Homo sapiens: one gene and its partners. The protein of the gene in region 1 purifies or fractionates together with the protein of each later gene. This does not show direct contact. Each region holds a gene or a part of one and is shown on either strand. Other genes may lie near its edges.

Evidence for each region. Proteins that work in one complex are often made in the same cells at the same time.
Region 2: the proteins of OGN (region 1) and CNPY3 purify together in Homo sapiens (affinity purification with mass spectrometry; 3 studies listed by BioGRID and IntAct, with this or other methods). This does not show direct contact.
Region 3: the proteins of OGN (region 1) and ASB7 purify together in Homo sapiens (affinity purification with mass spectrometry; 3 studies listed by BioGRID and IntAct, with this or other methods). This does not show direct contact.

What each region holds. Positions count from the first base shown.
Region 1 is NC_000009.12:92,401,579-92,409,245, reverse strand, and holds the start of OGN (mimecan isoform 2 precursor), read left to right. Parts: upstream 1-4,750; intron 4,751-5,481; exon of another isoform or gene 5,482-5,763; 5' UTR 5,764-5,838; coding exon 5,839-6,012; intron 6,013-7,667. UniProt on the Homo sapiens protein: Induces bone formation in conjunction with TGF-beta-1 or TGF-beta-2.
Region 2 is NC_000006.12:42,925,194-42,932,516, reverse strand, and holds the start of CNPY3 (protein canopy homolog 3 isoform 1 precursor), read right to left. Parts: upstream 3,038-7,323; 5' UTR 2,947-3,037; coding exon 2,796-2,946; intron 2,671-2,795; exon of another isoform or gene 2,606-2,670; intron 1-2,605. Other genes in the region: CNPY3-GNMT (Glycine N-methyltransferase-like isoform 1 precursor), read right to left, coding at 2,796-2,946; PTCRA (pre T-cell antigen receptor alpha isoform 1 precursor), read right to left, coding at 6,835-7,301. UniProt on the Homo sapiens protein: Toll-like receptor (TLR)-specific co-chaperone for HSP90B1. Required for proper TLR folding, except that of TLR3, and hence controls TLR exit from the endoplasmic reticulum. Consequently, required for both innate and adaptive immune responses.
Region 3 is NC_000015.10:100,647,589-100,652,238, forward strand, and holds the end of ASB7 (ankyrin repeat and SOCS box protein 7), read left to right. Parts: intron 1-734; coding exon 735-874; 3' UTR 875-4,113; downstream 4,114-4,650. UniProt on the Homo sapiens protein: Probable substrate-recognition component of a SCF-like ECS (Elongin-Cullin-SOCS-box protein) E3 ubiquitin-protein ligase complex which mediates the ubiquitination and subsequent proteasomal degradation of target proteins.

The DNA.
Region 1 (7,667 bases):
TCTGAAGTTTCTTATATGTTCCAATTTCCTAAATTGATATAACTATTCCAAGTTATAAATCTGCCTAGGTGTAAATATCATAACATCATGGACACATCTTGCATCACTTTACTTGTTTAGGTTATGAATTCACTATACAGAGATTTATGTACTACTGAGAAAAACTAAATTAACAAATAAAATACAATTTTACCATGAGCTCTTCCTTACATTGAGTCATAATTCTCTCCATATAAATTTTACCCTTTAGTCTGGGAAGTAAAATACATGGGTTCTCATATTTCTTGTTTGAACAAACAATTAGGCTTCAAGCATAAGTATGAGATTTAAGACGGAGATCCAAACCACAGACTTTCCACAAAATCCAGAATGCTGGATTAAAAAGGGTCTATGTGTATCTAGTAACTCAGCAGTTATCAATACGAATGATTTTGCTTCCCCAACCCCCACCCATCAGTGGACAGCTGGCAATGTCTGGAGACATTTTTGGTCATCACAAAGTAGGGGTGGGGGTGGGGTGCAACTACTAGCATCTAGTGGGTAGAAGGCAGAGGTGCTGCTAAACATCCTAAAGTGCACACAGGACAGCCCCCACAACAGAGAATTATCAGGTCCAAAATGTCAGTAGTGCAGAGGCTGAGGAACTCTGTAGTAACCCGATTCAATCGATAAAAGTTCAATCGATAAAAAAACTGTGGCCCAAAACGTTAAAGAACTTGCCAAGGTCAGGGGAAGGTTCATGAAGAATCAAAACTAGAACTCAGCTGGGTGCAATGGCTCACACCTGTAATCCCAGTACTTTGGGAGGCCGAGGCGGGCAAATCACGAGATCAAGAGATCGAGACCATCCTGGCTAACATGGTGAAACCCTGTCTCTACTGACAACATAAAAATTAGCTGGGCGTGGTGGCGCATGCCTGTAGTCCCAGCTACTCAGGAGGCTGAGGCAGAAGAATTGCTTAAACCCGGGAGGCGGAGGTTGCAGTGAGCTGAGATCGCACCACTGCACTCCAGCCTGGAGACAGAGCAAGACTCCGTCTCAAAAACAAACAAACAAACAAAAACTAGAACTCAGGTGTTTTGACTCCTAAACCAAACTATTTCCTACAAAGTTAGAGAATGAAGATGAAGATGGGGGAAAGACTCTTCTGGTTTGTAGCATTCATTGAAAGCTAATCCACTTGGAGGTCATATGGTCTCTATCAGAATTAAGCCACTCCCCAAAAATACTTTTTCCCTGGAAGCTCTTGTTTCCAAAATTCCATTCCATTCAACACATTTTTTTGGTTGCCAACAGACAAATGGTACACTTTTGAGGAAATAAAACCCCTATAAGGCACCAAAGATAATACAATAGGGTCACCTAAAAGAACTCCACAGAGGCCAAGGTGGATCACTTTAGGTCAAAAGTTCGAGACCAGCCTGGGTAACATAAGAGGACCCCGTCTCTACAATTCTTTTAATTTTTTTAATTAGCCAGGCATGGTGGTGCATGCCTGTAGTCCCAGCTACTCAGAAGGTTGAAGTGGGAGGATCATTTGGGCCCACAAAGTTGAGGCTGCAGAGAGTCATGATCGTGCCACTGCACTCCAGCTTGGGTGACAGAGCAAGACCTTGCCTTCATAAAAAGAATTCCACAAAGAAGACTCTTTCATCTTTGGATACAATGCCTGCTCTTGAGCATGAGACAGCTTTCATCTTTTACTCCTGTAGAGTAAAAGCTAAATAGCTTTCTATCAGCATTCAATTCTTTCTGGAATAGAAAATCACCTCAGTTTCAAGCATTTTATATTGAGTACTGTGTAGTAAAGATTTTGGCTTTGCCTAAAGAGAGGTCTGGGCTTTGCCTTGGCTTCTGAGAGGTGATCTATGTTATTTCTGATAGGAGTGTTTTTGTTTAGGGTGAGATCAGCCACACCTGATAGTCTTGAGGTAGAGGTGGCTATGCCAGGAAGACCAACCACGTGATGTAGGATAAGGGATTTGGGTTATGTAGTATCAGTGGACCAGGAGGCTGAATTCAATCAATCAATCAATCAAACCTATTAATAAAGCCCCAATAAAAACTCTGAACACTGAGAATAAGCTTGCCTGGTTGGCAATACCCCACATACACTGCCACATATCAACGTAAGGCAATGCATCCAGAGAACAATGGAAGTTTCAAGTCTGGAGCCTTCTAGACACTGCCCCTACGCATCTCCCCCTTTGGCTGATTTTAGGGTGTATCCTTTTTCTATATAAACCATAATCATGAGTATAATGGTCTTCAGTGAGTTCTGAGAGTTCTTCTAGGGAATTATCAAATGTAATAAGAGTGGTTCTAGGAATCTCCTGAAATTGCTGTTGGTATCAGAAGTGCGGGTAATACCCATCTTGCCAGAAGACTATTTCCTCCTCTAGCTGTGAAGAAGCAGGCTGCAATGTTGTGAGCTGCCCTTTTGAGGAAGTCACATGGCAAGGAACTGAGGGAGGCCGTCAGTCAACAGCTAGCAAGAAACTTACGTCCACAGTTTCACATTCTGCAAGGAACTGAATGCTGTCAACAACCACATGGGCTTAGAACTGGATCATTCCCTACTCAACCCCTGAAGTGAGGCTGCAGTGCCAGATGCACTTCAAATGCAGATCCTGAAGCAGACCATCAAGCAAAGACACGCCAAATTCCTGACCCACAGAAACTGTGAGATAATAAATGTGTGTTATTTTAACTAAGCCATTCCTTTGTGGTAGTTTTTTACACAGTAATAGATAACCACTACAATAGATGAACAGTGGTATTCTTCAGCAATGCAACATTAGAGGAATGTTTCTAAAATGCAAACAGGATCATATTTAAGCCATCACTGGCTTAAAAATCTCTACATGGTCTCTCACTGACTACAGACTAAAGCCCAAATACTTTAGCAGGATATAAAATACTTTCTTTAATCCAACCTCTATTCCCCCTGTCTAGTCGCATCTCTTAATATGGTCCATCCCCCTGACTTCTTCTCTCTCTCCCTCCAAGCTCCAGCAGTATGCAAAACAAATTATAAATTTTCTGAATGATCTACCCCCATCCCCTCCCTAAGGGGAGCACGTGATGATCCCCTTGCCTAGAATACCTCATCACCTGCGCTTACCCTCCTCTCCTATCCTCTCTATAGAAGTCAGTTTGGGTGCAGTCTCCTTGACTCCCAGTCAGTTTGTGGCTTCTCCCAGGTTATCACAGAACTCTGCATATTTCTGTGTAGCAAGCCCTACCATGGATTCTAGTTGCTTGTTTGCTGCTTTTCCTGCTGACTTAGAGGCTATAAATCTTCCTTGAGGGAAGAAACTGAAGTTTGCTTATCTGAGCTTACGTGTCTGAAGTCCTGGCACAGAATTGGCGCTCAATAAACTTTTATTAAATGAGTGAATGCTAATAACATTGTATTCACTGGTCATAACTTTTCAAGGAAAGTTGTTCTTCACAAAATAATTTTCTGTAGTACAAAGCATCAAAGTGTACCATTAATGAAACTATGAATCTCTAAGATTCTCTAAATTTGGACATATGGTATCTATCCAGCTTACTTCTCAATATCTTGTTAACTTGCCACACAATACAAAACAAATCAATGTCTGTTGTTTCATTATTATATATTTCAAAGTATTTAAAAAAGTTTTACTGTATCCTTGAAGCCATAAAACCAACAATTTATATCAACTCAAGCCAGACAATATCACAATTAAATTTAAGATAATTCACATTCAAATAAAAACTTCAGTGCTCAAGTCTTAGTTTATTTAAGCTTTGATTTGAAAGGTTCTAAAACAATTTTGTCTAGAAAAGAAAACAAATTGTTATTCTTTCATTTTCTATTTTAATAAAATATATATCCATATTTGTTAAATTTTTAGCTTAAAGGAGAAAAGTTAATTTGATTGGTAAAAGCACCAAGGAGGAATTTTTTAAAAGTGACTCTTTAAAAAAATCTTCAAAGTTGCTTGTATGGTATCTACAATGCCACTTTAATTTTTAAAAGCCAATTTCAATATTAAAGTAATTTTATAAAGTTTCCTTCATTCAGCAAACAAAAGTATCTTTTACTATCAACCTCAAAAACTATAAATCAAATTTACTTTTAAAAAGCTAATTTTTATGCATCAGTTTTTCTTATATGTAACTAAAATAAAGGGGAGAAAAAATCCAAATGACAAAACTATCAAATAATTTGTGCTAAAACTAATTTTTACACTGGAAAAATATATTACACTGGCTATATATTAATTATGGTATTAGGGCAATATTTTTAATCCTCATAAAATTAACAACATGGACTATGTTGTCATTTGGTGTCCTATTTCATTCAAAAAGCAGATTGTTTGATCTCCTGGGAAATCACCAAAATGAAAAGGATGACTTTAAAACTATATCATTTTTCATAAACTAATATTCACCAAAACATGAATGTTTATTACACAATAATAAAATCACACAAGTTTATAGTCAAATTAGTTGAAGCAGACTGAGTGCAGCAGTTACAACAAATAACTTAAGCACAGTTCTCTAGTACAACACACTGCATTTCACCCTAGAGAAAGAATGCTGGCAAAGATCTCTACCACATGGAAACTGTTCTTAAAGCTGCTGGGCCCTGAAATTTTACTCAGCAGTTTGAAATCAAGACATAGCTTTTCTCATTCACCCTCCCACTTGGGGCTAATGCACAGACATGAACATCTATTGAGGAAAACCACAAAAAACTTCAAAACAGCTACAACGGTAGGCTTACTTTTCATATATTATTTTAAATATTGTTTGTTAAAGTGCGACTGACTCATCTAATAGTCTTAATAAATGTAAAGGCCATCTCTGGTTTAAGTTTCAGTTACCTCAATTAATTTTTAAGAAGTACTTATGTATATCATCGCATAAATTTAACATCCACGCAGGCAAGAATAGGGTGCTGCAGAAGTCACAAATCCATTATCTTCTTCATTTTCAACCTCTGGATTTTTGACAAACTGGCATCTATAATGCAGCATCAGCAACTCTTGAGTGATTCTGTTTGAAGTTACTTAAGAAAAAGTCTGAAATGTGTACCCACCAGAGAAAATCCATTGATGAGCCTAAAGGAATCCTTTCTATTACATTCCTCAAAGTTCTTTGATTAAAGTTCGGTATTTCCTCTAGCCTGCAATACTATTCTTTCAGTTTTCTTAGCTTAAATTAAAAATACAATACTATTAACTAAAAATTATGATCACCTATTAAAATTACAAAACTAAGAAAATTAAAAACGTATGGCTTTTCCTATATTCTGTACCACCTAAAGGTGTTAATGACTACTTTTCATAATGTTAAATTTAAGTTTTAAAACTTTTCTTGGAACTTGTTTCTGTTCATACCAATATAAATCAAGAGTTCTTATAAAGTAGCTAAGTGGAAATATGATATTTTTAACTCACATGAGACAGGATCTTGGGACTTTATTTTAACTATTTATACTACAGGTATCCTAAGAATATTTCAATTAAATATTAGTATGTCTGCTGAAGGCACTTAATTATTAAGAAACTTAAAATTATCAATCTTTCTTGAATTTCTGATAGAGAAGTAAAACTATTTTCCAAAACTATTTTTCAGAATGTTCACTGATACATAAAAACTGCTAGCATCTAATTAAAGATCACTAAGGGTTAAATACTGTTCTCTGGCCCTTACTGCGCACACCCTGCCAAAACATCCTCTAAGCTTTTAAATATTGCTTCGATGGTCTGAATTTTTATTTCCAGGGAAAAAGAGAGTTTTGTCCCACAGTCAGCAGGCCACTAGTTTATTAACTTCCAGTCACCTTGATTTTTGCTAAAATGAAGACTCTGCAGTCTACACTTCTCCTGTTACTGCTTGTGCCTCTGATAAAGCCAGCACCACCAACCCAGCAGGACTCACGCATTATCTATGATTATGGAACAGATAATTTTGAAGAATCCATATTTAGCCAAGATTATGAGGATAAATACCTGGATGGAAAAAATATTAAGGTACTTTATTTCTATTCTAAATTTAGCTTCTAAAATACTGCCCATTTAAATGCATGTTTTTGCTTTTCCTGAATGTGTCTGATAAGGTAAGGGGAAGGGAAAATCACTTTAAATGATTCAAACGAATTCATAATAATTGTCCCTAAGATTGTATTTTTAGAGTATGTATGCTTTCCAAATTAATAAATGGTATCTATGGTAACCAAACAGTATCTATAGTAACCAAAAAATAAAACTTAAAGAAAACTAGACTTTAAGATGATCCCTCACCAGTTGCAATTTATATATTAAGTAATGTTACACAATGCCCTATACTTGCAATGTTGTGTTGCCTCAAAAATAAATTAGCGGAAATGTGTATTTGGAGAAATAAAGATGAATTATCAGCTTAAGGTTATTATTATAGAAAACAATTTGAAGAAAATACATAGAAGAGTACTGGTTATTTTGATATCAATAGCATTCCACAATAATTTATATATGCCATCTACATACAGTACCAAAAACTGAAAACCTAGTCAATATAGGACTTTCTTTTTAAATCAATTTTAACAGTTTAGACCCTCTATCAATTGGTACCAAGTAACTGTAACTGTCTTTGAGTTAACACTGCAAGGGTGACGTTATACCACATCATTCATTCCCCACCTTTATGGGCAAACTAATTACTTGTGGTTTTCTTGGCACACAGAAATGAATGCTGGGTAAGGAAAAAGTTAATACAGCACTTAAGTATCTGTTGCCCACTATGTATGACACATACACATACACACTGGAAAATGAGAAATTCAGCCAAATATATAACAATACTGATTGTTTCAGAAGTTCTTCTCCACTATAAATTGGAGGATAAAGACTTATAAGATTGACCAGTTATAATTGCTACTTTCTCTTTTCTTTTTTGCAGGGGTACACAATGAGCAAATGTTAACACCACAGTTTCTTTCTTTCAGTTAATGCTTTTAATATGATAGCATTATTTTTGCCCATCACTAAGACACAAAGGATAGGTATTACTAATTATAGCTTCAAGTTAAAGAAAAAAAAGTCCCATCATAACATAGGCTATTGGCTCACTTGGATGATTTGAATCTATTAAGATTCCCTGATCCCTAAAGAGTTTAGAGATTATTTTTCTCTCTGCTTCTTCTCTTTACAGGGCTTTAGAAGTTTCTCTATCTTAATATAAATGCAGGGTCTAAGATATTTGTGGAGTGGAGTAGAATTCAACAGGACTTGATGTGCAAACACAGAGTAGAGGGAGGAAGTTCAACCACCACACAGATGGGAGAATGAAGGTGAAGGGCAGAGTCAGGAGTCAAGACCGAGACTAAAATGGAACATGCTTACAAAGGACAGAAAGAATAGGACACCACATAATACACTGTAATCTAATGGCAGAAAACGTACTCTCCAAGAACAGGAAAGACAGGATCTAAATTGTATCTACTCCAATTTCCCCAGAATTAATGGCCTACCCCAGTGGCCCAAGCAGGGTAGGTAAGGTAAGCTGGAATAAAAGGGATCCAAGAGCCAGGGCTTAATGGAGGGATATAGGTAATTAAAGGGTCACCCCAAGAAGAGACCTAAAGACCTTAATTGGTAGTTTATACTTGTGACATGGCTGGAGCTCTAGTCTTACTCAAAATGGTAGA
Region 2 (7,323 bases), on another chromosome or scaffold:
TACCTCTTCAAGACCTCCTCTGCGGATCCCACCCAGAACCAGACTCACAGGAGATTCACGGCACAGACACCAGACCCTCACTGACATCCACCCACTCTTTTTTTCCGGGCAGGTTCTCCTTCCTCTGTGCCGAGGCCTGTTCCACTCAGGCTACTGAGCCAGGAGGCAGGCTTGGTGGGCTAGACACAGTCAGCATTTAATAACAAAGGTGTAATAATAATACAAACAAATATACTATTAAGATGAACCTAACGGTTGGAGTTTGCCAAGCCATCCTGTGACTGCAAATCCCTTTTCAATTAATCTTCATCAGTTACCAAATGAGGGTAGACTAGAATGATCTCTAGATATAGAGATATAGAGATCCTGGGCATCTCTATGCTTCCGTGAGTCTGTGAATGTTGCCTAAGGAGAATAAATGTGAGCTCCTTAGGCTATGAGAATAATAAGAGGGAGAGTATGGGCTCTTTGATATCAGAATAAGACAGAATACAGGCTGGGCACGGAGGCTCATGCCTGTAATCCCAGCAATTTGGAAGGCTGAGGTGGGAGGATCACCTGAGGTCAGGAGTTCAAGACCAACCTGGCCAACATGGTGAAACCCAGTCTCTACAAAAATACAAAAATTACCCGGGCATGATGGCAGGTGCCTGTAATCCCAGCTATTCAGGAGGTTGAGGCAGGAGAATCACTTGAACCCTGGAGGCAGAGGTTGCAGTGAGCCGAGGTTGTGCCATTGCACTCCAGCCTGGGCAACAGAGCAAGACTCCGTCTCAAAAAAAAATAATAATAATAATAATAAGACAGAAAAGAAAGAGAAGAGGAAGCGAAACGCTGAAAGGCTATCAGTTAGCTGGGCTGGGTGCAGTGGCTCACGCCTGTAATCCCAGCACTTTGGGAGGCTAAGGTGGGTGGATCACCCGAGTTCAGGAGTTCAAGACCAGCCTGGCCAACATGGTGAAAACCCGTCTCTACTAAAAATAGCCGGGAGTGGTGGCACACACCTGTAGTCCCACCTACTCGGGAGGCTGAGGTAGAAGAATCCTTGAACCTGGGGGACGGAGGTTGCAGCGAGTCAAGGTCGCACCACTGCACTCCAGACTGGGCAGAGCAAGACTCCGTCTCAAAAAAAAAAAAAAGGCCAGGCACGGTGGCTCATGCCTGTAATCCCAATACTTTGTAAGGCCGAGGAGGGTGGGTCACTGGAGGTTGCGGTGAGCCAAGATCGCGCCACTGCATTCCAGCCTGGGCAATAAGAGCGAAACTCCATCTCAAAAAAAAAAAAAAAAGCTATCAGGACTAGAGGAAGAGCGAAAAGTGAAAGGGCGGCCAGGAGCAGAGGCTCACGCCTATAAGCCCAGCACTGTGGGAGCCCAAGGCAGGTGGATCACTTGAGGTCAGGAGTTCAAGACCAGCCTGACCAATATGATGAAATCCCATCTCTACTAAAAACACAAAAATTAGCTGGGCATGGTGGCATGCGCCTGTAATCCCAGCTACTCAGGAGGCTGAGACAGGAAAATCGTTTGAACCTAGGAGGCAGAGGTTGCAATAAGCCGAGATCTCGCCACTGCACTCCAGCCTGGGCAACAGAGCCAGACAGTCTCATAAAAAAAAAAAAGGAAAAAAAGAAAAGAATGTACGGGGGAAGGCACAGGCTTGAACTCATACTGGGTGCCCTACCAGTGAAGTCGGCTTATCTCTAAAGCATCCTTTTAATCTCTCTAATGGAAGGATTATGTGTCCGAAACTTACCCCAAACCCACTTTCCAGTGTTTAGGGAACATCTGGCCTGATGTAGGCTTTCAATTCAGATGAGAGATTCACAGCCAACTTTCTGGGGGCCCTGGGGTTACGGGGCTAGGAAGGCAGGCATGACTGTAAGGTCTGAGGAGAAAACTAAGGGACGGAGTTGAGGAAAAAGAAATAGGTCCTTTATAGTCCTGGCTCGCTGGTAGCTCCCTCTCTCTCTCTCTCTGTAGTTCCTCAACGCCTATGTCTTTGGGACTCACCTTTTCTCCAAAGTCCTAAAATCTTCTTTCAAGTTCCCCATAGGCTCTATTGTTCCCCCAAAGGGCTCCTCAGATCCAGATCCTCCTCCTCACACACACCCACAGTCTCCCATTTAATCATCTGTATTCTCAAAACATTTATTGAGTGCCTACCAGACACTGTGTGAATACGTATCTAAGACAAAAATTCCTGCCTTCGAGGAGTTGTTAGTGGGTGCAACAGACAACTACACAGATTGGGTTGCAGTGAGGGCAAAAGGGGAAAGTCTTAGGTTTTTTTCCCCCAAGATGAGTCATCTGGAGCTTTTCAGTTCCTCAAACTCGTTCTTAGCTTCTCAGCCGGCAGGCCTCTGCCTCTGTAGTTTCCTGAGTGGGCCCCTCTCTTTCCACTTCTCTTCATCCGGCTAACTCCTAATGCCTCTTCGTGCTTCCTGTATGAAGCCCTCTTTGACTCCCCTCTGCACACAGCCTTCGCCCACCCCCTCCCCCACTCCAGGCTAGACCAGATGCTCCTCGTCCGGCCCCCAAAAGGAAGCTCTGTACCTCCCCTATCATGGCATCTACTACTCTGAATTATCATTGCTTGTTTCTACCAATGTGTGAACTCCAGGGGTACCGGGACCAGATCTCTCGTCCGCCGCAGCGTCCCGGCGCAAGCCTGTTCAAGGAAGGAAGACACCCTGCAGAGCTCGGAACCTTGCAACCCCCGACGCTGCTCCGCAAGCACCACCGCTGGAGCCAGCCCCTCCGGCAGGATACGCCCCACGGGCCCCGCCTCCTCACCTTCGCATTTGCTGGGCAGGCGAACCCAGTCGTTCTCCTCAGCTCCGGCCTGGCTCGGGCCCAGCTCCGGGGCCGGCAGCAGCAGCAGCAGCAGCAGCAGCAAGGGAAGAAGCAGAAGACAGCGGGACGCGGGCTCAGGCATTGAATCCATGGCCCGGCCGGGCCCGGACCCTAAAGGACCGGGCGGTTCCTCCTCCCGCGGCGCGCGCGGAGCAGTTTCCCCTCGCCGCTTCCGGGACTGCACACGTGCCTCCGAGCAACCACGACAACAGCTAGCCTCCCGCCCGCCCTCCTCTCGCAGCCGCAGCCCGCCTTCAAAGCGGACCAAGGCCCGCGGACGGCGCAGCCAATAGGCTTTCTGGGGTTTGCTCTCTAGCTAATGGGAAGACTATCTTTTTACGCCCTTGGCCAGTAAGAGAGCAGATGGTGGCCTCAGCGACCTATGGCAAAGTCCTTTCCCACCCCCTAACGGAGGCTCTGGGAGAGAGAGGATGCAGGACCAAGACCCGAGAAGAAGCCTGCGTCTGGGCCTGGGTGGGACGGATTCAGGCGCGCAGGTGCTGGAAGATGTGGGGAAGGCCGTCTTCGCGGCTTTCTCCGCCTCCTCGAACGTCACTTCCCTCCTGGGGTCCTAATGCCGCAAGTCCTTACTGAACATCTGTTTTTAAATTTTATTATTGGTATTGTGGTTGTTATAGCCGGGCACTCTTGTAGGCGCTTAAGGTGCAAGCAGGACGACTCAAACTGTCCCCAGCCTTCACACTTTTTTAGTAGCCAGTAGATTTGTCCTAGTGAGAACTAGAACAAATGACTTCCTCTCTGAGCCTGTTTCTATTTGTATGACGACAAAGTGATCCTCCTAGCTGCTGTGGGAGCTTGCCTGTTGTTGGGAAGCTCAAATAGGTTAATAGAATTAAAGCTTATCGAGCAGATTGTAAAAAGTTCAGGCATTAATTTTCTTTTTGTATGTAATCCCAGCCCCTTTTACTGCCCTATTATTTATTTCTTGATTCTGAGCTCTCAGAAGGCAGAAATTTAGCCGATTAACGATTGTCTCTCCCTTCCGCTTCCCCAGCAACAACAGGGTGCCTGGCACAAGGAGATACTCAGTAAAACTCTCATCTGCTGTGTCATTAAGGGGAACACTTAATGGCTCACGCCTGTAATCCCAGCACTTTGGGAGGCCGAGGCGGAAGGATCACCTGAGCCCAGGAGTTGGAGACCAGCCTGGGCAACAGATTGAGACCCTGTCTCAACAAAGAAGAAGAAGAAGAAAAAGGCCAGGCGCCGTGGCTAATGTCTGTAATCCCAGCACTTTGGGAGGCCAAGAAGGGAGAACTGCTTGAGGCCAGGAGTTCGAGACCAGCCTGGTCAACATAGCGAGACACCCCCCCCATCTCAAAAATAAATAAATCAAAATAAAAAATAAAGAGGAGGCCGGGCTTGGTGGCTCACGCCTATAATTCCAGCACTTTGGAAGGCCGAGGTAGGTGGATCACGAGGTCAGGAGTTCAAGACCAGCCTGGCCAAGATGCTGAAACCCCATCTCTACTAAAGATACAAAAAGTTAGCCGGGCGTGGTGGCACACGCCTGTAATCCCAGCTACTCGGGAGGTGGAGGCAGGAGAATTGCTTGAACCTGGGAGATGGAGGTTGCAGTGAGCCGAGATCACGCCATTGCACTCCAGCCTGGGCGACAGGGCAAGACTCCATCTCAAAAATAATAAATGCCGGGCGCGATGGTTCATGCCTGTATTTCCAGCACTTTGGGAGGCCAAGGCGGGCAGATCACAAGGTCAGGAATTCGAGACCAGCCTGGCCAATATGGTGAAACCCTGTCTCTACTAAAAATACAAAAAAAAATAGCCGTGGTGGTGGGTGCCTGTAGTCCCAGCTACTTGGGAGGCTGAGGCGGGAGAATTGCTTGAACCCTGGAGGTGGAGGTTGCAGTGAGCCGAGATCGCGCCACTGCACTCCAGCCTGGCGACAGAGCGAGACTCCGTCTCAAAAAATAAAAATAAACAAATAAAAATAAAGAGGAGCACTCTTGGTCTTCTTTAGGCTGCCCCTGAACTCAGTGTCCTACAGACGCACACAGACCAAAGTTGCTTCTCTGGGAAGTTGTCTGCAAATTGGCCATAAAACCCTGTTCCCTGATACCTTCTTGTTTCCTTCCTAGAGGTTGGATATTTATGCTATTTTATGAAGACTTCAGAGCACTGAGGCCCAGGCCTTGCCACTTTCTGACTTTAGTTTCTTGTCCAAAACTGTGTTGGTAACAAAGCACTTTGGATAGGCAGGGGCTGTGGCATGTGGAATTCCACAGTGTACAAGATCAGGACACCCTCCTAAGGTCCTCCATGTTTTCTAGGCTTGATAAGACTTAGGTTGGCTCAAGCTGGGCACAGTGGCTCACACTTATAATTCCAGCACTTCGGGAGGCCAAGGCAGGCGGATCACTTGAGGTCAGAAGTTCAAGACCAGCCTGGCCAATGTGGTGAAACCCTGTCTCTACCAAAAAATACAAAAATGAGCCAGGCATGGTGGCGTGTGCCTGTAGTCCCAGCTACTTGAGAGGCTGAGGTGGGAGAATTGCTGGAACCTGGGAGACAGAGATTGCAGAGAGTTGAGATCGCACCACTGCACTCCACCCTGGGGGACAGAGTGAGACCCTATCTCAAAAAATAAAATAATAAAATAAAATATAAAATAAAATAAAATAAAATACTTGGGTAGGCTCAGAGCTTGGCCATGGCCCTTGATTCACCTCGGCTCAGAAGCCCTCCTGGGAAATAAGATTAAGCCAGCCTGACAGTGGAGATTGAGAAGCCTGGGCTCAGCATCTGGCCGGACAGCTAGGAAGGGATAGTGGCCAGAGAAAGTCTGAGGCTATAGTTGGGCCCCTGCCCACACCCTCCCTCAGTCTGTGTGTCAGAGAAGGAACATGCCTTGTGGGGATGGTGGACAGATTCATCCGTAGAAGCTATGGGACCCTCCCACCCCAGCCACCAGCACCCAAGAATCCCCAAAACAAGTGGGAGAATCTCCTTTCAGGCTGGTGAGAGATGAGCAGTGGAGGAGGCAGTGAGAGTTTTTATGGAACAGTAGCTGAGAGAGCACAGAGGCTCAGGGGAGCTGAGGGTGTCCTTGAAACCATGTGTTGGGGTGCTGGGGCATAGTTCCCCATCCCCTCCCTGGGGGAAGGAAGACTAAAGTTGATCCAGCAGACTATCCTATGGGGCCCAAGGGACAGGTGGATTTACATGACAGCACCCAGAGTCTCTTGGAGTGATTACTAGCAGAGAACCCTTGGGAAAGTCTGGATTTCCTGCCAGCGCTGGGCAAGCAGGGGACGCACACGTTATGCTCTACTGTGGAAGCCTCATACTTGATCAATACAAGAATCTTCTTTATGTAACAACCAGACCAAAAAAGCCAAACCTCTTTAGTACCTGGCTCAGGGTTGATACTTAAAGAATATTTGTCAAATGAATAATGACTCTTAATTGATTAATAAACTGTAAGTTTGGAATTAATATCTCATACTCTTGTTATTGAAAACGATCCTGTTCCCCAGAAACCCTGGCCCTGTTCACCTCTGTACGAGAGTTCACATCAGACCCACCACCCACCTTCCTGGGTTCCTGGGCTCTCTGCCCTGACCTCTCACAGAGGTTGGGCCAGGGTGAGGAGAAGAGGGGGCCTCCCCGCTTGCTGTTGGGGGAGGAGACAGCCGCCTTCCCAGCCACCAGTCCCACTCTGCAGTTCCCAAGTTCTGTCTCAGGAAGCCCTCTTCCTCAAGGGAGCTTTCCTGGATTTTTCCTACTTCTAACTCTGCCAAATTCCTTCCTCCCAGGATAGACATGAATTCAAATATTTTTCATTTGCTGTGTCATTTAAGTTCTTTTTTAATGTTCTCAGTCATCTGCTCCCTAAATGCCCCTGTAACTGGGTGGATCACCATTCTCAAGGGGCCCCCTTTTGGATGGCAGAGACACAGCCTCACACAGTGTGACGCAGGGGAGGTAGAGCCCTGCCCTCAGGCAGCTCCAGCCTGCAGAGGAGGAGGCAGGTCACCTGCAAAAAATGCTCCAAGACTGGAGGAAGGAGCCCTGAGGGCAGATCTTGAGCACCAGGCCTGTGCTGGGCAAGTGGGGTAACTGCTGAGGTAAGACCCTTCCCCCCATACTGGGCTCCCGGGCTTCCGACCCGGAGGGGTGTCACCCCAGCGGCGGTCCCGAGGCTGGGGTCTGGGTGAGCTGGTGGCCTCTCGTCCCCCAGTCTCCGTGGCCGGGTGCAGTCGATGGGAGCCGAGGGCTCGCAGGCGGGTGGTGGTTGCGGGGGAAGGCAGCGGGCCCGCGGGGTCGCACAGGCAGCTGCAGGTCAGGAGCAGGTCAAACAGCAGCAGCTTGAAGAGCAGCAGCCGCAGGACCCCCAGCCACAGCGCCCCACCCGGTGTCCCTGCGAGGAGGAACCGCTCAGGAGCCCGCAGGAGCCCGCAGCCCCCTACCCCAGGAGAGAACGGCGG
Region 3 (4,650 bases), on another chromosome or scaffold:
TGAGATATAACGGGTTTTTATTGGCAAGTGATCAGGGTGTGGAAGCTTGAAGCGATGTAGATTCAGAATACCTTGAGGCGCTTTTTCACACCCCCTTCTGCTGCACTCCTCAACTGTCAGCCTTACAACCAAGGTTCTGCTGTGTTCAGAATCACGGAAAACAGGTGAGCAGATCTGGAAAGCTTGTTTGGAAAGCTCCACAGAGACCGTGGTGGGTGTCCGGGCTCCAGTGTCCTAGACCCAGAGCTGAAAGGGAGGCTCACAATAGGGGACATCTCTTTCAGTCCCCACACTTTTCAGATTGAGAAGCCAAGGCTCAGAGGAATGATTGGCTCACAGTGGCTCACCCAGCGTGAGAGAGACCTAGTCAGGACGAGAACCAGAATTTTCCTGATTTATAACAGAAAGGATATGAGGCTTAGAATCAAAACTGTTTTTGGTCTCAGTTGAAAGCCTTAATTGGTTGTCTGATATTAAGCAACTTGTTTACATCTGATACTCAGTTTTCTTATTGGTAAAATGGAGTTGAAAATATCCACCATCCCACGGTTGTGAAAAGGATCAAATAAGGCATCGCATGAAGGTCCTAGGACACTTTGAGTTGGTATCTTTCCGGTCCTTTGCATGTCAAGTCCATAGAGAGAACTTCCAGGGAAATGAACAGTTCTTTTCAAAAGTGCCTTAAATATTGTGCTTTGTGGCTTTGTAACATTTTCTTTTTTCTGTCTTTTTAGGACAGCCCAGAAACTTGCAGGACCTGTGCCGAATTAAAATTCGACAATGTATAGGCCTTCAAAACCTAAAGCTACTTGATGAACTACCAATTGCCAAGGTCATGAAAGACTACTTAAAACACAAATTTGATGATATCTGATATGCCAGAACTGTGAGCAAGATTAGGAGTTCTATTCTAGATACTTAAAAGGCTTTTTGCCTTGCACAAAGTATATCCTATGCAATTTCTGATTTGCTGTGAAATCAGAAAGCAGGTATACACTTTTGGGTTTTCTGTTTGTTTGGTTGGTTTTCATTGTAGGGGAGGGATTTTTTATATATATATAAAAACACACACCACATGCTTGAAGGTCTTAATTTGGTTTCTTGGTCCAAGTTTAAGAGGTCCAAGCTTTGTATACAATACTGCATTTAGAAAAATTGTCTTTTCTTAAATGACACAAGCAGGTTTAGAGTGGAGAATTTACCCTTTCCAAATTTATGGTTCCTTGGTAAGCACGGTATTCTAAACCAGCAGAGCACTTGTTAACGTTTGGAGGCACAGTTTCACCCAGGGCGACCCTGGGTTCTTTTGGAAAATGCCCTAAGAAATGTTTGAAGTAACGCTGTCACCTCATTCATTTTTAATGAGTACAAACTGGCCGTTTCAAACTGTTCTTTTTCCTAATTAATGTAGCTTTCGGATGACATAAATCCAGTATCTCTGCTTATGACATAAATCCAGTACCTCTGCTTTTCTTTTGCTGTGCTCTTGTTTTTAACTTATTTTTTTTTTAACAACTGTAGTACACTACCCTGAGACACTGCATCTCGATTTCTATCTCTAGTTAGAGTTGTACTTTTAAAAAAATTAACGGGAAAGAAAATAACTTTGTGAAGCCAGTGTATTCTGTTTTTAAAACTGTGCCTGCAGTGCAATACTCCTTCTGGTGTATTTTATCCATTATTTCACTTGCTGGTCGTCATTTCACAGCCAGCTTTGACATGCCCGTGAGGACAGGAGCCGCCGCTTCAGTTGTCACTGCAGAGCCATCGTATGTCAGTTGCAATTTCCATCTGAAGCTATGTCTTTGACTTCACTTTAAGCAGAAAATTTTGTACCCTGGTGGTCGAGTCTTCCCTTAAAAATTGTTAAATCATTTGGCTTTAATGGTTCAATAATTTGGGGTGGCTTCATGGTGTTTCTTTTCTTCCCAGTTTAAAAAAAAAACTTTTTAAGCGTAAAATCTTTAAGGGGTACACATTTATAAGTCTGGCTAATTTCTAATATGCTAATTAAACATTTCCCATTTTAAGGTTATATACAGTGAGGCTCTTCAGGACAATTATTTTCTGGGTTGATTGGGCATATGTTTGCCGTGTAAACACGGATATGATAAAGTGTCAGTAACAATGGAAAAGGTCCCAGAGGCATTAGGCATCTAAGAGGATGCCCTCAGAAACGTATTCTGGCTTGATTTGTGTTATTAACTTCAGAAGAACCTTTTCAAATGTCCCAGTATCGTTCTTAGTGCTTTGGGAAAAAATATTTAACACACTGTTAATAAATTTGTTATCAGAAGTTTACAAGACGAAGGGCTTCTCTCGTCTGAATTTCTAGATTTAAGTCATGAAGTGTAAAACTGTTTCACCCAGAAGTGTAACTAAGCAGAACTAGGAGTTTTCTCTGGCTTCACCTTTTTCAGAGCCAGCAGTGCTGTTTTCTCAAGCACAGCGTTTGCTCTTAGACTCTGATCTGCTTGTGCCTAAGCATTGCACAGGTTTCCGAAGACGGGCAGCTTCAGAGAAGAGGATTATTCGGGAGATTGCTGGTGTGGCCCATAGACTCTTTGGCATAGACTCTTTCGCAGGCAGCCACTCTGAGTGTGGCCAGTTCTATAACCATCCCCAAACTAGCTGGAGCCTGATGGATAGGAACGGGTAGTCTGTCCTCTTCCCCATAAAAATGTTCCAAAAAGTTATCTCCAGAGAGAGTCCCTTATGAAGACAGTTGCCAAGCTGTATTCTCATTCTTTAAACCAATACCCAGGTCAGGGCTAGTTCACACTAGCACTGTTAGGGACATGGTGTGGCTAGAAATGAATTGAGTGTGACTTCTCCCTACAACCCCAGGCCCAGGGATAGGAGGAGGCAGAGGGGTGCCTGGAGTTTCTGCACTCTCATCAGTGATGTTCATGTTACACTTGCACAAGGGCTGATTTCCACGTATGTGTGTGTTAATTTATTCACTTAGTTTCAAAAGATTTTCTCTCCCCAGCCATTCAGAGGTTTCCAAACTAAGCCACTGAGTTTGAGTCAGGGAATTCCACGTAAAAAGATCAGATTAAGGTAAATTCTTTGTTCTGTATTGCTGCTGTGACTTCAGAAAAAAAAAATTATGAGAGCTCTTCCTGGAATTTTGAAATTTCTATTTAATGAAGAAGTGTATAATTCCATTATTTATTGTTTGAGGTTTGATTTATCTGGAAGCTTAAAAAGAATGTTTTATTTTTGTTGTTAATAAAATCCCAATCACATTTCACAATAACTAAAATGTCTCCAGGTGGGTTACTGGTAGATGATAGTGGTGACACCTGCAGGTCTGCATTTGAATTGGATTCACAGAGAAGCATTCCATGGTCACATAATGAATAGGGAGAACAGATATTTTCAGAAAAATCAACCGATTGTTTTTTCCAGAAACAGAACAGAAAATGTTCAGAATATTTTCAAATTTGTCAGATTCTTTTATGTTTCCTTTGAAATTTATTATTTAAGCCTATTACTAAACCTTTATAAAAATATATTTGGCAAATACACCAAAGAAACCAGCTTACAAAAGATTATGATCATTAATGAACTGCAAACCTCATCTTTCGAAAACAAGGTTTTGTGTTTTTTTTTTTTTGTAAATATTTGTGTTTATAAATGTACAGCAGAGTAAGAGTGTTTTTTAGATTATTTAATTCCCATATTTCTAAACTATTTACTACACAGTAATCCATGCCTGTTAGTTTGGAGGACTTGACTGTCTCATTTTTTAATTCATTGTCAGTCATGCTTGGAACAGCATTTCCACTAGAGAATCCAGCGTTCTGGCAGTAGCAAGAGTACACATCTGGAGCATGAGGGACTCTAGCATGACTCGTCAGATGCACACCCCAAGAGACAAGAATGTGTAGTTTAATGACCGGCGTGGACCATACGAAATTGAGATTCTAACTTTCCTGCAGGAGTGCTCATGAGCCCAGAATGTGATTGGGATAAGGCCATTTGCCCACAAATTTAGCTTTCATGTAACTCCTAGTGTGTTATATCATAATGTATTTTGTTCTTCCTTTTTAATGTAAGTTTTGCTTTGGGTCAATTTGAATTAAAAAAATCAAATCTGATTTAAAACATGTTGGAGTTGTATTTTATTTCCAGTCTACCTTAAGTTTTTAATATGTCCAGCTATTTGGTGAAAATAAATAAAACTCTATCCTTCCTTCATCAGCATTTTAGATCGCTGGGAGTTGTTTAAGAATATGATGATGTGGAAAACAATACCACTCTCCATTGTCACCAGATAAGCCATTTCTTACCCTCCTTTAATTTGTTCAATGCATTCTGCAAATACCCACCAACAAAAGATGATCACAGTGTTGAGTGTATCGACCCAGCACTGGGCCTTCTTGGGCCGTAATCGCCACCTGCCCCGTGCGTGCCACACCTTGACTCACGACAGGGTTTAGACCACAGCGCTTCTAAACGTAGGACAGCATGCAGTCAAAGCAATGCATCTGACGGAGTTACCCTGCAGGAGATGAAGCAAAACAACTTTGATTTCACATTTCCTCTATAAAACATAAGCACAGCTTGATTCAGGAGAGACCCGAAGTGAATGTGGATGATGGTGTGGCACTAAGAGAAAGGGAAGAGGGACTGCTTAGCACC